2 separate regions of the Homo sapiens genome follow, and region 2 is linked to region 1. Evidence: fine-mapped expression QTL. Tissue or cell type: whole blood. Region 1 holds a variant in brackets; the other region holds the start of a gene. All regions are shown on one strand. Distances are between the middles of the regions.

The links. PIP is the estimated chance that this variant, and not a neighbour inherited with it, causes the effect.
Region 2: LZTS3 starts here. The variant in region 1 is fine-mapped to the expression of LZTS3 in whole blood (TOPMed, PIP above 0.99).

Annotation. Positions count from the first base shown.
Region 1 is chr20:3,189,708-3,197,884 of GRCh38, reverse strand. DDRGK1 (DDRGK domain containing 1) reads left to right here. Exons shown (of 9, transcript NM_023935.3): 5 at 2,532-2,654; 6 at 3,017-3,055; 7 at 6,064-6,120; 8 at 6,647-6,695; 9 at 7,066-7,535. The coding sequence ends at 7,232. Among named protein-coding and RNA genes, the nearest start is that of DDRGK1, 11 kb to the left of the region's middle. The variant C/G (reference allele first, on the strand shown) is at 3,637.
Region 2 is chr20:3,170,127-3,178,297 of GRCh38, reverse strand. LZTS3 (leucine zipper tumor suppressor family member 3) reads left to right here and starts at 4,749. Exons shown (of 5, transcript NM_001365618.1): 1 at 4,749-4,843. It overlaps LOC107985414 (a long non-coding RNA gene), which reads right to left and starts at 4,608. Exons shown (of 2, transcript XR_001754477.2): 1 at 4,108-4,608; 2 at 1-196. RefSeq lists a silencer at 4,526-4,865.

The sequences.
Region 1 (8,177 bases):
CGCGATAGCTCACTGCAACCTCCACCTTCAGATTTCAAATGATTCTCCTGCTTCAGCCTCCCAAGCAGCTAGGATGACAGACGTGCACCACCACACCTGGCTAATTTTTGTATTTTTGGTAGAGGCGGGGTTTCACCGTATTGGCCAGGCTGGTCTTGAACTCTTGACTTCAGGTGATCCACCCACCTCAGCCTCCCAAAGTGCTGGGATTACATGTGTGAGCCACTGTGTCCAGCCTTAACAATTTTGAGGAGTCCTGGGCAAGTAGTTTGTAGAAGGTCCCTTAATTTGAGTTTGGTTGATGTTTTTCTCATGGTTAGACTGGGGTTATGGATCTGACTGAAGAAGACAATAAGTGAAGTTCCATCTTCAATGCAACATACCAAATATGCAAGTTATCCGCTTCACTTGTCCCTAATGTTGTTAACCTTGGTCGCCTGGCTGCGGTTTTGTTTGCCAGCTTTCTCCACTGTAATGTGACTGTTTTTTTCCCCTCTTCCCGTATTTCTTTGGAAAGAAGTCACTGTGCACAGCCCACACTTAAGGGTTGGGGAGTTAGAGTTCTTACATAAATTATATGGAAATCTCTTACAGGAGATATGTCTCTCCTTCCCTATTCATTAAATATTCATGCAGTCTTTTTTTTTTTTTTTTTTTTTTCTGAGATGGAGTCTCACTCTGTCATCCAGGCTGGAGTCCAGTGGCGCAATCTGGGCTCACTGCAACCTCCGCTTCCCAGGTTCAAGCGATTCTGCTGCCTCAGCCTCTCGAGTAGCTGGGATTACAGGCACCCGCCACCACACCCAGCTAATTTTTGTATTTTTAGTAGAGACGAGGTTTCACCATGTTGGCCAGGATGGTCTTGAACTCCTGACCTCAGGTGATCCGCCTGCCTCAGCCTCCCAAAGTGGTGGGATTACCAGCGTGAGCCACCGTGCCCGACCAGCCATTTTTTTTATATTTGTATAGACTCATGAGTATTTATTTTGTACTTTGTGTTATAATCCAGTAACGTTATTTATTACGTTGTTGAGATTGTTCCAGCTTTGACCATTGGGAGCCCTTTCAGTTGGCTCCTGTGTACCTTTAACACACACTCGTTTTGTTTTTTGAGCACTTAGTTTCTGGCACTGCAAGATGCCCCAGACTCATCTTGTATATTACTTGCCTCAGCTTTAGCTTTCTGATTCTTGTTTTTGTTTTTGAGATGGAGTCTCGCTCTGTCCCCCAGGCTGGAGTGCAGTGGCACAGTCTCGGCTCACTGCAAGCTCTGCCTCCCAGGTTCACGCCATTCTCCTGCCTCAGCCTCCCGAGTAGCTGGGACTACAGGCGCCCACCACCACGCCCGGCTAATTTTTTTTTTGTATTTTTAGTGGAGACAGGGTTTCACCGTGTTAGCCAGGATGGTCTCGATCTCCTGACCTCGTGATCCGCCCGCCTTGGCCTCCCAAAGTGCTGGGATTACAGGCGTGAGCCACCACGCCCGGCTAGCTTTCCATTTAAAAATTTTTCTGAGTGCTCTGGAAAATGTGTTGGGTTGAGGGAGGCTGTTTTACCAGGCAGTAGTGGTGATGGAGCAACATAGACAGACCAGGGAGTTTTCTGGAAGTTAGAGAAAGAAGGGGTCAATAGGACCTCATTTCTGACCAGTTGGCTGTGTTAATTCACAGAGCCAGGGACCTAGGAGGAGGTCTAAACGTAGAAGAGTAGGTCCCAGGGTCTGTCTGCTGCCTGTGAGATGGCCCAGTAGCTGTGTCACATGGACCGTTGTGTGTTTGGGAGAAGAGATTCGGGTGGGGCTACAAGTGTGGTAGTCACTGGCAAGGAAGGGGTTGATGCTTTGGGCATGGGCGAGGTGGCCCAGAGAATGTGGAGGAGAGAGAAGAGGCAGGGCTGAATGATGAAGGAGGCGGGAAGAATGGCCCAAGGAGCAGGAGGAAATCCAGGAGAGGGTGGGATCTGGAAGCCAAGGGAGGAAAGAAGGATCACTGAGAGGACAGACATATGAGACCTGAAGGTTGTACCTTGAGTTTGGTGAGTGGAGGGCATGGGTGAGACTGTGGCAGGAGTTGTTTCATAGAACTGGGAACACAGAAGCCAGACTGGAGTGGGCTGACTGGGTGAGTGGGTGGTGAGGAAATGCAGGGTTCACATTTGCTTATGAGGTGTGGACATGACGGGGTATGCTTGGTGAGTTACACAAGGAGAGGATGGGGCAGGTGATTGGAGGGTATTGTAGAGTGGGGTCATGGCAGGGTTTTCAACAGATTTTTGCTAAGATCCCCTGAGCACGGAGGGCGGGAGAAGGGGCTGAGCAGCATTTGTCCAGGTGATGATGAAACCGATGACAAGAGGGGCCTCGGCCCATGGTTCAGCTTGGGGGAATGGAGAAATGGGGGTCCTGAAGGAGCTCTGTCTCTGAGAAAAGGCTGGGCTATATGCTCTGGTGTCCTGCAGGGGTAGCAGCAACCAGAACAGGTGCCTGCCCTGTTCTGCCCCCGATACCTGACTTTTGCCTCCTATGTCCACAGGAGGAGGAGGAGAGGAAGGCCCGCGAGGAGCAGGCCCAGCGGGAGCATGAGGAGTACCTGAAACTGAAGGAGGCCTTTGTGGTGGAGGAGGAAGGCGTAGGAGAGACCATGACTGAGGAACAGGTGGGCCTGCTGCCCCTGGGAAGCCCCTCTCTGCACCCATCAGTGCAGCCTGTGCCAGACGCAAGGCTAGCCACCCCATCCCAGACGCCCCTGGCCAGGCAGTGAGAGGTGGGTGGGCATCAGTACCAGCAGGCTTTAGTGGCCAGAGGCCTTGTCCTCAGCAGAGGCTGGTGCCTCCGAAACTCTCACCCTGGAAGGCTCTGCTGCTTGTGTAGGCAAGCGGTATGTGCAGGTGGTTGGGCGGGCCAAAGGCAGGCTGCAGGCAGGTGGCCCTCAAGTGAGCAGGTGGTACTTGGGTGAATGGGTACAGAACCCTGTGGGCTTGCTAGGGGGTGCTCACCCTGATTTCTCTGCTTCTCTAGTCCCAGAGCTTCCTGACAGAGTTCATCAACTACATCAAGGTAAGAAGCCACTGAACAGAGCCTGAGTGTCAGCTCCCTGCCTGGCATGTGCAGGTTGGATGCCTCCAGCGGGGGCTGCAGGCAGGGCATTCAGGCTCATGCAGGAGTGGACAGGGGGGCCCAGAGGGGCAGAGCCGCAGGGTCCTGGCCAGGAGAGTTTCTCTCCCTCCAACCCCGAAGGTGGAGAAGGACCTGGGTCTGTGTGGGAGGCGCAAGCCTTTGATCACTTCCTCACACTCAGTTTGACAGTTTCCCTGCTCTTCAGACCCCACGCTCAGTGAGTCAGTGTGTTTTCAAGTCTCTTCACATGTGTTTTCTGTCAGTTCTGTCACACTGAGGCTCCACTGAGTTGAAACAAGCATCCTCTGCCATGTGCTCCTGACTGGGAACTTGGGTCTTTCAGGGGGAACAGGATGGTGTTTCCTTTGGAGTTTAGGGTGGGGCGGCAGTGTGTCCCCTTCTGTCCGCAGCCACTGCGCAGGCCGCCTCGATGCTGCTCCAGGTTGCATAAGCACATCCTACTTTGCTTTGCTGCTAAGCAACTTCTCTCCCACGAAGGATGCCATGAGGGGAGAGGTTTT[C/G]AAGTGCAACTCAGAGGTGCAGAGGCGGCTGAGGGAAGGAGTGCAGAGGGAGCGGGGGCGGTGGTGGGGGTGCTACCAGGGGCTGCCAAGGACCCAGGGCTTGCATAATCCTCCCGCCACCTCTCCTGAAAGAGAGCAGGGTTTAGACGCCTGCCAGCAGCGAGGGGCTGGGCTCACAGCCTTGAGTCTGGGGTTCTTAAGTGGGGGAAATGCTGGCAGCTTTGAGAGGGTCCTGTCTGTTCAGGCTGTGTGCACTCCCCTCTCATGGAGCCCTCTCTCTACCCTGGCACACTTGATTAGGGGCTGTGGCCGGGCAGGTTATTTCTCACACTTGCCTGCTGCTGTTTGGAACTTGTCCCCACCTACCCAGTAGGCAGTAAGATGGTCCTGAAGCCCCTCCCCAGGAAGCCTTCCCAGGTGGAATTAGAGGAGGGGGTCAGCTTCAACATCCCCCTTTACTCTGCAGAAACCAGAAGAAAGGTCCCCAGTTCTAGCCCTCACTTTTGGTGGCTCCCTGGAGGTAACTATTCTCTGGGAGTTCTCCAAACTCTTTTGGAGCTTAGAAGTTTTTCCAGCTTGTCCGGGCATGGTGGCTCACGCCTGCAATCCCAGCACTTTGAGAGGCCGAGGCGGGCAGATCACTTGAGGTCAGGAGTTTGAGACTAGCCTGGGCAACATGCTGAAACCCCATCTCTGCTAAAAATACAAAAATTAGCCAGGCATGGTGGTGCACACCTGTAGTCCCAGCTACTCAGGAGGCTGAGGCAGGAGAATCACTTGAACCCAGGAGGTGGAGGTTGCAGTGAGGCAAGATGGTGCCACTGCACTCCAGCCTGGGCGACAGAGTGAGACTCTGTCTCAAAAAAAAAAGAAAAAAAGTTTTTCCAGCCTGTGCTGGCTAATTCTTCTAGAGCTGCTGTCTTGCAAGGAAAAGGAGGACTTCTGAAATTCAGTCTGTCTGCTTTCCTCCTTGCTCCAAGGGGATAGACCTTTTTTGCCTTAAGATTTCAGAACTGGAGGAACATGCCTGCACCCAGCATCGTTTATGAGAGGTGTAGGGTTCACTCGATCTTGTTCCATTCTCCTGTCTGACCATGGCTGGGCTCAGGCGATCTTCCTGCCTCTGCCTCCTGAGTAGCTGAGATTGCAGGTGGGTGCCACCACACCTAGCTTGTTTTATCAAACGTGTTTTGGCCCCAGCAGCACCTCAGGCCAGGTCATCAGGGAGCACCTGGGGTGACTTCATGTTCTCGCACCACACTGTCACTGAGAGCCCGCTGCCTGATCCCTGTTTTGTAGGTAGAGACCAGCTGACCACGTCACTTTGTCCTTGCCCATCCTGACCCAGCTGCCTCTCGCTTGCCTTCTTGCTTGTACATACGGCTTTGGCATTTCAAACAAGTCACATGCTATCTGCAGTCAGGGAGGTGTCACCATGTCAGTCCTCCCCCAGCTCATTTGCGGTGGAGGATTCACAGAAATGCAAAAGAACTGCCTTTTCTCAAGTCCTGTGCTGTGTGTTGGGGTAGTGGGGGCAGGTGCCTGTGTGGACACAGCGGTGGACCCTTCGCTGCGCCCTTGGGAACTCAGGTTTCTACTGAGGGTATGAAGAAGCACTTGGAGCACAGAACGTGGCTGTGCTGGAAAGCACTCAGCGGTATTAGTGACAGTGATTTCAAGGGTGGGCTCAGTGCCTCAGATGGTATAAAGAGGATGGATAAAAAGTGTGGGTGTGTCAGGTTGTGGGGGACCAGGCCAGTGGGGCGGCCAGCGAAGGCAAGGCAGGAGTGGGCCCCCACAGCCTCTACTGAGAGACCTTGGCTTGCTCGGGCTTTTATCTGCTCTCCCTCTTGTCCATGTACTCACCTGTCTCACCAGCCGGACTGCGAGCTCCAGGGCGGGGACTATGGCTTGTTCAGCATGTGTCCCTCCTACCTTCTCAGGGCCTTGTTCTAGTAGGTCCTCAGCAAGCATAAGTCCTGGTGACAGTTATTTAAAATAGCTTTTGGTGACTCTCACCGCCTCCTTCCTCCCTATGGTGCGTCCCCTTGAACTTGTCCATGATGTTAAAAAGAGATGGCTGGATGCAGAGGATGGTGGCTGCTGTGCTCTGATTACCACTCGTGTGTCTCGGAGTCCAGGACAGGGCCCATGAGGCAGGTGGTTGTTTTGGGTAGATTCCTTCCTCGCAAGAAGGGGAATGAGAGGGTTTATGATTGTGCGGGTCTCTGTCAATGGGTGATAGTGAGTGTGTGTGTGTGTGTGTGTGTGTGTGTCAGGGGAGCAAGGCTGTCCTACAGGAGTGTGTACAGTGTTTTTCCAGCCACCGAGAACAGATCAGATCAGAATGCAAACCTGGAGGGTGCCCATGCTTAGAGGGATTTGCCCAAGCTCAGCCTCTCTTTCTTTTCCTCCTTCTTTTTGTAGCAGTCCAAGGTTGTGCTCTTGGAAGACCTGGCTTCCCAGGTGGGCCTACGCACTCAGGTAAGCCCTGGAACGTGGCCTGCTGTGTGCAGTGTGGCCAGGGGTCTGTGGCTAGCAGAGAGGACCTGCCCTAAAGATAGAGTCTTGATGCACCGTCTACCTTGTCCCCAACCAAGAGTGAGTAGTGCACAGAAGTCTCCTGGCACCCTGGGAATCCTGCATTTTTAATGGACGAACAGGCAGGAAAGAAAAAAAAAACCCAAACCCCATCACTCTGCCAGCCCCTGTGACCAAAGCAGCCCAAATCAGTTACCTTGACAACTCTCATGCACAGACTGCACCAGCCTGTGTTGCAAACATCACTGCCCCGCTTCTAACAGGAAGAGATACTCTTTTGGGGGTCTTGCAGGGCCCAGGACCAGAGCCCCTTCTACCCAGGGCCCTTCCAAAGGCAAAGCACAGAGTCACATTTGGGCGTGGCATGAGAGGGAAATAAAGAGATTTGGCTGTAGTGGGAGGGAGGTTTCAGTGCTTTTTCTGGGGACATTGGTGCCTATCTCTATTCTGAGAGTTGTTCTCCTCATAGGACACCATAAATCGCATCCAGGACCTGCTGGCTGAGGGGACTATAACAGGTGAGATGATGAGAGCCAATCACTGCAGTCCTGGCCTTGGAGAGTGTCTAGCCACAGGGGCTGCAGGGATGTGCTGCAGAGGCAGGATGACCACCCAAGATGGGGGGAGGGGTGTGCAAGGAGGGGCACTGAGTAGCTGGATGCAGTTACAAGGAGGACATGCCAGGGCCTGGAGGTGGCAGCAGTGGGAGAGGACAGGCAGGGCAGCCTGATTCGACTCTCCTAGCAGGACTGGATGCAGCCAGGAAAGTCCAGGCAGGCAGGAGGCCGGAAGGGCCCTGAGCCAGCTGTGAAGGAGTAGGTGGGCATTCTCAGGCCAGATGGGGAACGCCCAGGAGGCCTCAGCCCCACAACCTGCATGTCCCCACAGGTGTGATTGACGACCGGGGCAAGTTCATCTACATAACCCCAGAGGAACTGGCCGCCGTGGCCAACTTCATCCGACAGCGGGGCCGGGTGTCCATCGCCGAGCTTGCCCAAGCCAGCAACTCCCTCATCGCCTGGGGCCGGGAGTCCCCTGCCCAAGCCCCAGCCTGACCCCAGTCCTTCCCTCTTGGACTCAGAGTTGGTGTGGCCTACCTGGCTATACATCTTCATCCCTCCCCACCATCCTGGGGAAGTGATGGTGTGGCCAGGCAGTTATAGATTAAAGGCCTGTGAGTACTGCTGAGCTTGGTGTGGCTTGGTGTGGCAGAAGGCCTGGCCTAGGATCCTAGATAAGCAGGTGAAATTTAGGCTTCAGAATATATCCGAGAGGTGGGGAGGGTCCCTTGGAAGCTGGTGAAGTCCTGTTCTTATTATGAATCCATTCATTCAAGAAAATAGCCTGTTGCACATTTACTCTGTTTCTTTGTGCCCTGCAAGCCCTGCCCCCAAGACCTAGATAAGATCTTTCTCTTCTTTTGCCCCCACTCAAATTAGAAGTGGGGAGCCTCTTGGGCCACATCTCTGTTAACTGGGGAGGGGAGGTCTCATGGGTCTTTTTTAACTGATCAGGAGCCCTAAGTAGGGCTGAGAGCCAGCGGGGAGAAGAATTAATGAGAAGCATCAAGGATAGAGTCCTAGGGAGCATCAGCCTTTAAGAAGGAGGGCGGGGGGTCAGTGAAGGAGAGAGCCATTTGCAGGGCAGGTAGAAGGAAGGAGAGGACCTGCTTGAGCTGGCTATAATTGTGCAGTGGAGGGAGGGACATTGCTCATGTGGGAAATCACATGAATTCAGCTCTACATCCTTGACAAAAAGTTTAAATGGTGTGGGTGATTCCACCCACTGGTGGATGTGAGAACCATATGCTCAGAAGTGGGTGGGATGGGAGGGAGGTGTGTACCTCCTGGAGGGTCGGTCACTCTGGTTCCTGTTGGCTGTTCATGGCGTGAGCATCCTGCTGTGCTGAGGGTGAGGCACATGTTTAAATGTGTATTTATGCAAAGTGGTCCCTAAACAGAAGCCCCCTACTTCCTCTGGTGCCTGATGGAGGAGGCAGC
Region 2 (8,171 bases), 20 kb after region 1:
ACAAAGCCTGCCCTCCACAACCCCTGGTTGTTCTCTCCACTCCTGAGTACACCCCCTGTGTGGCCCTGCGTGGCTTGTGGTGTCCTTTCCCATTGAGTATGTTGTAACTAATAAACTGCGGTAAATCTCACCTGCCCAGTGTCAGGTGTTGTGTTTGGCCACTGCCATCACATGAGAGTGGGAACCCCTCCGTCAGCTATGGGGCAAAGAAGACGTGATTAAAACAAATATTTAAAAGACTAATGATATCCTATGCTGGTGAGGCTGTAGGGAAACAGGAACTCACATCTCACGTGGCTTTTTTTTTTTTTTTTTTTTTTTTGAGATGGCAACTCACTCTGTAGCCCAGGCTGCATTGTGCAGTGGCATGATGACTGTTCACTGCAGTCACGACCTCCCAAGTTCAGGTGATCCTCCCGCTTCAGCCTCCTGAGTCGCTGGGATTACAGGCACTTGCCACCCCACCCAGCTAATTTTTGTATTTTTAGTAGAGATGAGGCTTCACCATATTGGCCAGGCTGGTCTCAAACTCCTGACTTCAGGTGATCTACCCACCTCAGCCTCCCAAAGTGCTGGGATTAAGGCATGAGCCACCGTGCCTGGCCGGTAATACATAATTCTTAATTTCAACTGTTCCTGGTTAATTAGGAGGGTTCTTTTTGGGTATTCATTTTTGACTGATTTTTTTGGCATCTATTATGATAATTGTTTTTTTTTCTCAGTTGACAAACTCATGGCTTATTAATTTCATACAGAATAATCTACAGTTTTATTTTCTTGAATTGTATGTAGGATTTTCCACCCCTGGAACTGATGACTGATGAGTATGGTTTTCAGTTTTCCTTTCTTCCTGTGCTATTATTAGGAATTGGTATAAGGGGAATTGTGGCTTCATAAAATGAAATAGACAGCATTCTATCTTTTCTGGGTTCTGATGCAGATTAGTAGGGTGAAAATTATCTATTCAGTGAGTTTGAGAGATTTCTTCCATTAAACTGTCTGAGGCCAGAGCCTTTTTAAAATTTCATTTATTTATTTTTGAGACAAGGTCTTGCTCTGCTGCCCAGACTAGAGTGCAGTAGCACGATCACGGCCCACTTGCAGCCTGAACCTCCCAGGCCCAAGCCATCATCCAACCTCAGCCTCCTGAGTAGCTGAGATCACAGGTGTGCACCACTGTGCCTAGCTAATTTTTTAATTTTTTTTTTTTTTTTTTTTTGAGACAGGGTCTCACTCTGTCGCCCAGGCTGGAGTGCAACAGCGCAATCTCAGCTCACTGCAACTTCCACCTCCTGGGTTCAAGTGATTCTCTTGCCTCAGCTTCCCGAGTAGCTGGGACTACAGGCATTCACCACCACAACTGGCTAATTTTTGTATTTTTTGGTAAAGATGGGGTTTCACTAATGTTGGCCAGGCTGGTCTCAAACTCCTGACTTCAGGTGATCCACCTGCCTTGGTCTCCCAAAGTGCTGGGATTACAGGTGTAAGCCACCATGCCCAGCCCAATTTTTAAATTTTTTTGTAGAGACAGGGTCTCCCTATGTTGTCCAGGCTGGTCTTGAACTCCTGGGCTCAAGCCATCCTCCTGCCTCGGCCTCCTAAAGTGTTGAGATTATAGGCGTGAGCAACGATGCCGGCCACCAGAACCTTTTTTGGACATATTTCTTGGATGATGTTTTTAATATCTTTGTTATCCTTGTAATTTTATTTCCCAGAAAATGAGCCCCTTTATCAAGGTTTTCAGGGCCGGGCACGGTGGCTCAGTTCTGTAATCCCAGCACTTTGGAAGGTGGAGGAGGGTGGATCACTTGAGGCCAGGAATTCGAGACCAGCCTGGCCAACATGGCGAAACACTGTCTCTACTAAAAATACAAAAAATTAGCTGGGTGTAATGGTGCACGCCTGTAATGCCAGCTACTGAGACTGAGGCAAAAGAAGCACTTAAACCCGGGAGGCGGAGGTTGCAGGGAGCCAAGATCATGCCACTGCACTCCAGCCTGGGTGACAGAGCAAGACTCTCTCAAAAAAAAACAACTTGTGTGATCATTAATCAGCAGGTGACAAATCATCTTAAGCAACAACAAAACAAAACAAAACAAAGTATTGATTAGTTCACTGAACTGATGAACCTAGATACAAATAGTCTAATCTCAGCACTTTGGGAGGCCGAGGCGGGCGGATCTCAAGGTCAGGAGTTCGAGACCAGCCTGACCAACATAATGAAACCCCGTCTCTACTAAAAATACAAAAATTAGCCCGGCGTGGTGGTGGCACATGCCTGTAATCCCAGCTACTCAGGAGGCTGAGGCAGGAGAATTGCTTGAACCCAGGAGGCGAACGTTGCAGTGGGCTGAGATTGCACCATTGCATTCCAGAGGGAGACTCCATTTCAGAAAAAAAAAAAAAAAAAAAAAAAAAAAAAGTCTAGTTCATAGTTGCTCTGAAAGAAAGGAAGGGGATTGCATTAGTTATTCATTCAATAGTTACACACTATGCTAGAGTTTGTGTAAATTTTAAGTGAGACTCTGTCTCAAAAAAACAAAAAAGTTTTCATATGCATTGGACCAGAGTCAGATATAGATAGTATTCTCTTATTTTCCTGGTGTTCTTTTAAAGATGCAAAACCACATTAGTCTATGAAATAGGAATGGAGACTACAAAGAGAGATTAAGTTGAGATCAAGACAGAGGTGGAATGGAAATTGGCTGAAAGAAAAATAAAACAAGCAGAATCAAATGTCTTATTGGAGAAAATAAACAGTACTCTTGGCTCTGAAGAAAATTAAATCCGTAATGGTGAAGAAAAACTTGATATAGTCTCCCAGGGTGCAGAGAAAACAAACAGATTTATTTGACATTGGTGATCCAATGTGATAGTTTTAGAGGAGAGGAAAGAAAAAAACCCAAATCTTTTCACAGAATGGACAGGAAGAAAACTTTTCTAAGCTACAAAGAAGACCTCTTTTGTTTCTGGAAAATTAATAGATAAGGCCCATATTGATTTATACTGGCAAAATGTTTGACTTTTGAGGGTAAAGAAAAACCCTTGCAAGCACCAAGCAAACTGCTGACCTTAAACAGACAAACCCAGCTTTGCATTTTCAGTGCCAGAAGACAATGAAATAAAGACAAGAGTTTTGAGGGGGAAAGCTTGAGACTCAAGAATCCTATAAACAGGAAATCATTATAAAGGCATTCTCACCTAAGGCAAAGGCTTAGGAAATACAACATTCCAGAGTCCTCCCTGAAATCACCAGTCATGTGAGAGATGGGTCCAAATGAGGAATAGAAAAATTAGAGCACAAAAAACCGGCAGTAACATTGAAACCAATTAAACAGAGTTGGCAAAAGCCAAAAACAAGGATTGAAAAAGAATGTTGTGGCTTAAAAAAAAAGTGTAAACAAAAGTTAGGTCTGTCGTCCTGATTAAGTGGACAAATATAAGTAGTGAGGGCGGCAGGTAGGAGGCAGAAAAGCACACAAAATTTCTCATGGGGGAATATAAAAACGAATTATTTGTCACTGACTTTACTAATGTGTGAAATGTAAACTATTTTCATTTGATAAATCTAAAGGCAGCCGCGAGAAGAATTAAAAATACTTTCTGCCTTGAAAATCACGATAGAAGATAAAAGCAAATGTGGGAAAATTCAGAAAACAGGAATAAATAAAAACTATAGAATACGAAGTCGTAAGACCAAACACAACACCTATAAACAGCAGAGACGTAATGCGTTAAATCCCAGCCAGAGCAGAGGCGCTGCAGTTCTTAGGGCAGACCCTGGTGCCTCCAGGCTTTTGCTAGTGCTAAACTCTCGGCTAGGCTTGCCTCCCTACCCTATTCAAGGCTGAGGCCTCAATTCAAGGCCGACTCCCTCCTCCCGGCAGTCCTCCCGGGCCGCCCTAGGCTGAGTGAGCACTCCCCACAGTGAACGCTGCCCGCGCGGGCGAGGCCGGCGCTCCGGGTCCGGTACGAAGTCCCACCTCACTCCCTCTCACCCCGGGTTACAGCGTGTGGTCTGGGGCCACGCGTTACGCCAGGCGCGGGGCACAGGGTGAAAGCGTTCAATCCTGCTGGAGTGTAATGTGTATTTTTTCCCCGTCGCACCTTCCAGACGGTGATCCAGTGTGAGCAGCAAGTTTCAAATCGTCTCCGTTTGGTCACGAACGGAGTTTACTGCCCCTCGACGCCTCCCGCACGACAGCCCGTGGTCCTCGCGCCCGGGCGGGTCGTTGCTCGGCCGGGCGGATCCACCCGCGACGGCTCGTCCCGACCCCTCCCTAGCGGACTTGCAAGGTCTCAGGGCGTCCGCTGGGAGGCCGCGTCCCGAAGAGCTGGCGCGGGAGAGGAATGGGGCTCGGGGCTCCGAGTCGGGAGCCCCTTCCCCCAAGCAAGAGGGGCTCCTCCTCCTCTTCCTAGACGTGGGATTCAGGGAGGGCGCGGTTCCATTGGATTTGTTGCAGAGGAACGACTGGGCCTGAGCCCAAGCCCAAGGGCCTGGGGGGTAACGAGCGATGAGCAGAGGGGCTCGCGGCGGACTTGCTGCGCCCTAGAGAGGGTGAGGCTGAGGGGTCCCACGCGCGGGCGGGGCGCAGCGACGAAGGGGTTAAGGCGCCTCACCCCGCCCCAGCCCGGGCATTGGCTGCCCTGGGGGGCGTGGCCGGAGGGCGGGCTCGCGTTTGCCGCAGCCGCTGGTGGGCGGGGCTCGGGCGGGGAGCAGGAGGGGCGCGGAGCGGAGCCGGGCCCGCGCAGCGCGCCCCGCCGGGCGTGCTTCGGGCTGCGCCAGCAAGCGGGGCCGGTGGCGCCCGTGTCGGAGACCCCGCGCCGGACCCTGAGGCAGCGAGTAAGTGAGGCAGGCCCATCGTGGCATCCCTCCCGGCTCCGACCTGCCGCCGTGCCTGCTGCACTGCGCGGCATGTCTGACCTGACCCGGACTGGGTAGGGGGCGCGTCCCGCTGCTAGGGTCCCAAGGGGGAGGGGAGCGGAGAGGAGGCGGATGATGTCATGGATGCTTCGCCCGGCCTGGGGGGAGGTGGCGGCCAGAGGGGGTGCGGCTCGGATTATGTCACCTCTTCCCTCTGCGCCCCGCCCCCCGGGGCCACACGCGTTGGTGGGGAGCCTGGGGAGGTGCGGGCGGGGTTTCCCCCATCGCAGGGACTCCCAGGTCCTGTGGCCTGTGGCTGGGGTCTCTATCAGTTGGCTCTGCGGGCCGTGGGCTGCTGGTGAATGGCGACCCCCCCTCCCACCCCCAGCAGAAGCTCGTGTGTGCGCGCGTGTGTGTGCTCGGGGTGGAGGGGGCGCTCTCGGCCCCCTCAGTCCTGAAACACTGGCTTCATCAGAGCCAGTAGCTAGGTGATGGGCCCATTCCGCTGCCAGTGCTTAGGCCACCGAGGGAAGACGGATCTCCCCTCACTCATCCCAACCAAGAAGTTCTGGATATCTCTGCACCCCAAAAGCCCTGCAGTGCCCCCAGATCCCTTTCCTCCCTCAGTCCTGCTTCCTGGAAACCCCTCCTGCTCTCCCTGCCCGGATTCACTGCCTCTTTGCATTGCCCATAACTAGCATTCCCACAGGCATTTGCCCTGCATTTCCTTGGTGCAGGGCCCAGAGACCCCCAGGACTCTGCCCTCTGTGCTCCTGGGAAACCTATAGGCCAGCCCTGGGGAGGCCTCAGAGTGAAATCTCCCTGGGGTGTCCTCAGCCAAGTGCTCCAAGATGCCCCCTCTGGGGGGTGGAGATCAGGGATGCTGTCCTGAGGCCAGCCTTTGAACTGGTCTAGAAGCATGTAGGATGGGCACAGAGAGCTGGCAAGAGCTTGTGTGTGAAGTAGAGAGGGGCTCAGGTCAGGGTAGATAGAGGAGGGGCATCAGGAGAGTCCTTGGGGACCCTGCTGCAAGCTCTGCTCTGGTTCTGGGGACCAAGAGGAATACCAGGCATTTCACCCATCATACATTTACTTCTTAAAATGCCTGCAATGTAGGTGTGAGAACCCGAGGTGAAATAACCTGCATGAGGTTGCACCCCTAATCAGTCAAGCTGGGATTTACACTTGGAGCTGATGCTGCCAGAACTCTGTCTACTGCACTTGGTCTTGCTCATGGAAGGATTTGGACAGAGCAGGGGCAAGATCAGCTTTGCCCTTTAGAAGGAATCCCCTGGCAGCTGCCTGGGGGAGGGAGTGCAGGAGAAGAAAGTCCATTGAGGAGCCCCCAGCAGGGGTGCTGGATGGAGGGGCTGGCTAGAGATTTTTAGGAGATAGAATGGGCTGGGGTTGGGGCCTCTGAGACCCCAAGTGTTCCTAGCTTTGGGAGAGACACAGGTTGAGGGGTGGGTTGGAGGTACCTGTACATGTAACTGTCAGGTAGAGTCCGTTTGGCCCCCTCATGACGCTAATACTGTGTATAATGCCCCAGGCACTGAGGGCTGAGGTGACAGAGATCGAGGCAGTCAGGCAACAGGCTGTCATCTCAGGGTGGTGCACTGATGCCAGGAGGCTGCCTTTGCAGACCATGCTCAGTTACCTGGACTAGTTCAGGACCGTGACCTTTCCTCTCAGTTCAGTTCCTGCTTACCAGGGAAACATCCCCTTCCTTGTCCTGCCGGTGTCCTGCTGGGATTTTTTTTTTTTTTTTTTTGAGGGGGTATCTCACTCCGTTGCCCAGGCTGCTGGAGTGCAGTGGCGCAATATCACTGCAACCTCCACCTCCTGGGTTCAAGCGATTCTCATGCCTCAGCCTCCCGAGTAGCTGGGATTACAGACACGCACCACGACGCCCGGCTATCTGCTGGGATTTTGTGGAAAGAAGCTGCAGCAGCCAAAGCTTGGGAGAGACAAGGGGCAGGGCATGCTTGCAAGGGGTTAACCATGACAGGTTACAATTACGACAAGAAGCTCTTTAGGCAGTGAGGCTCCAGAGAGAGCTTCTGTGGGTTGATAGTCAAGCATTCCCCAGGTAGAGCACGGAGAAAGGAGGCTCAGGACAATGGTCCTGGGACCTTGTTTCCATCCACGACTCGAGGCATCTGAGACTTGCTAGGGACTACACACACTCTAGAGAAACAGTAGGGGAGAGTGGCCTATGACCAGCCCCAACCTATGCTCAGGTTGTCCTTTCCCGGATCTCAGAGAAGGTGTACTACATGTTTGTATTGCCCCTTATAGTTTACAAAGCACCTTCCCAAACATTATACCCTGTCACTCAAGGTCAACATGATCACTGTTGAGGTTTATTCCTGCCCAGATCCAGGTATCTGGTGCAGTCACCTTGCTATCCCCTTGCCTAGATCTTTCATCTCACTATTGGCAACTTCCCTCAGCATATTAACACACAGGTTTCTACCATGGTTAATTTTAAAATTAAAAAAGCCCTTGAATCTCAAACCTCCTTAAATAACTGTCTTCTCTTTTAGCAGGAACTCTGCCATGTCTTTCTCTGCACTCCTCTAGCCTTGTGGACTGCCTTTGTTTTGTACCACTTTTTTTGTTCTGTTTTGTTTATTTGTTTGAGAGGGAGTCTTGCTCTGTCACCTATGCTGGAGTGCAGTGGTGCGATCTTGGCTCACTGCAACCTCCACCTCCTGGGTTCAAGCCATTCTCCCGCCTCAGCCTCCTGAGTAGCTGGGATTACAGGCATGCACCACCACACCCAGCTAATTTTTTTGTATTTTTAGTAGAGGCAGGGTTTCGCCCTGTTGGTCAGGCTGGTCTCGAACTCCTGATCTTAGGGGATCCACCTGTCTTGGACCTCCCTAAGTGCTAGGATTACAAGCGTAAGCCACCGCGCCAACCTGTTTTTTTTTTTTTTTTTTTTGATGTAGTCTCGCTCTGTCTTCCAGGCTGGAGTGCAGTGGCATGATCTCGGCTTACTGCAACTTCTGCCTCCCGGGTTCCAGTGATTCTCCCACCTCAGCCTCCTGAGTAGGGGATTACAGGCGCGCACCACCACGCCCAGCTAATTTTTTGTATTTTTAGTAGAGACGGGGTTTCACCACGTTGGCCAGGCTGGTCTCGAACTCCTGACCTCAAGTGATTTGCCTGCCTTGGCCTCCCAAAGTGCTGGCATTACAGGTGTGAGCCACCGCATCCGGCACTTGTACCACTTTTCTGAAACCATTCTGACATAGACATTGGTGATGTCTCGAGACCAGCTCCTAAATCCGCAGCACACTCT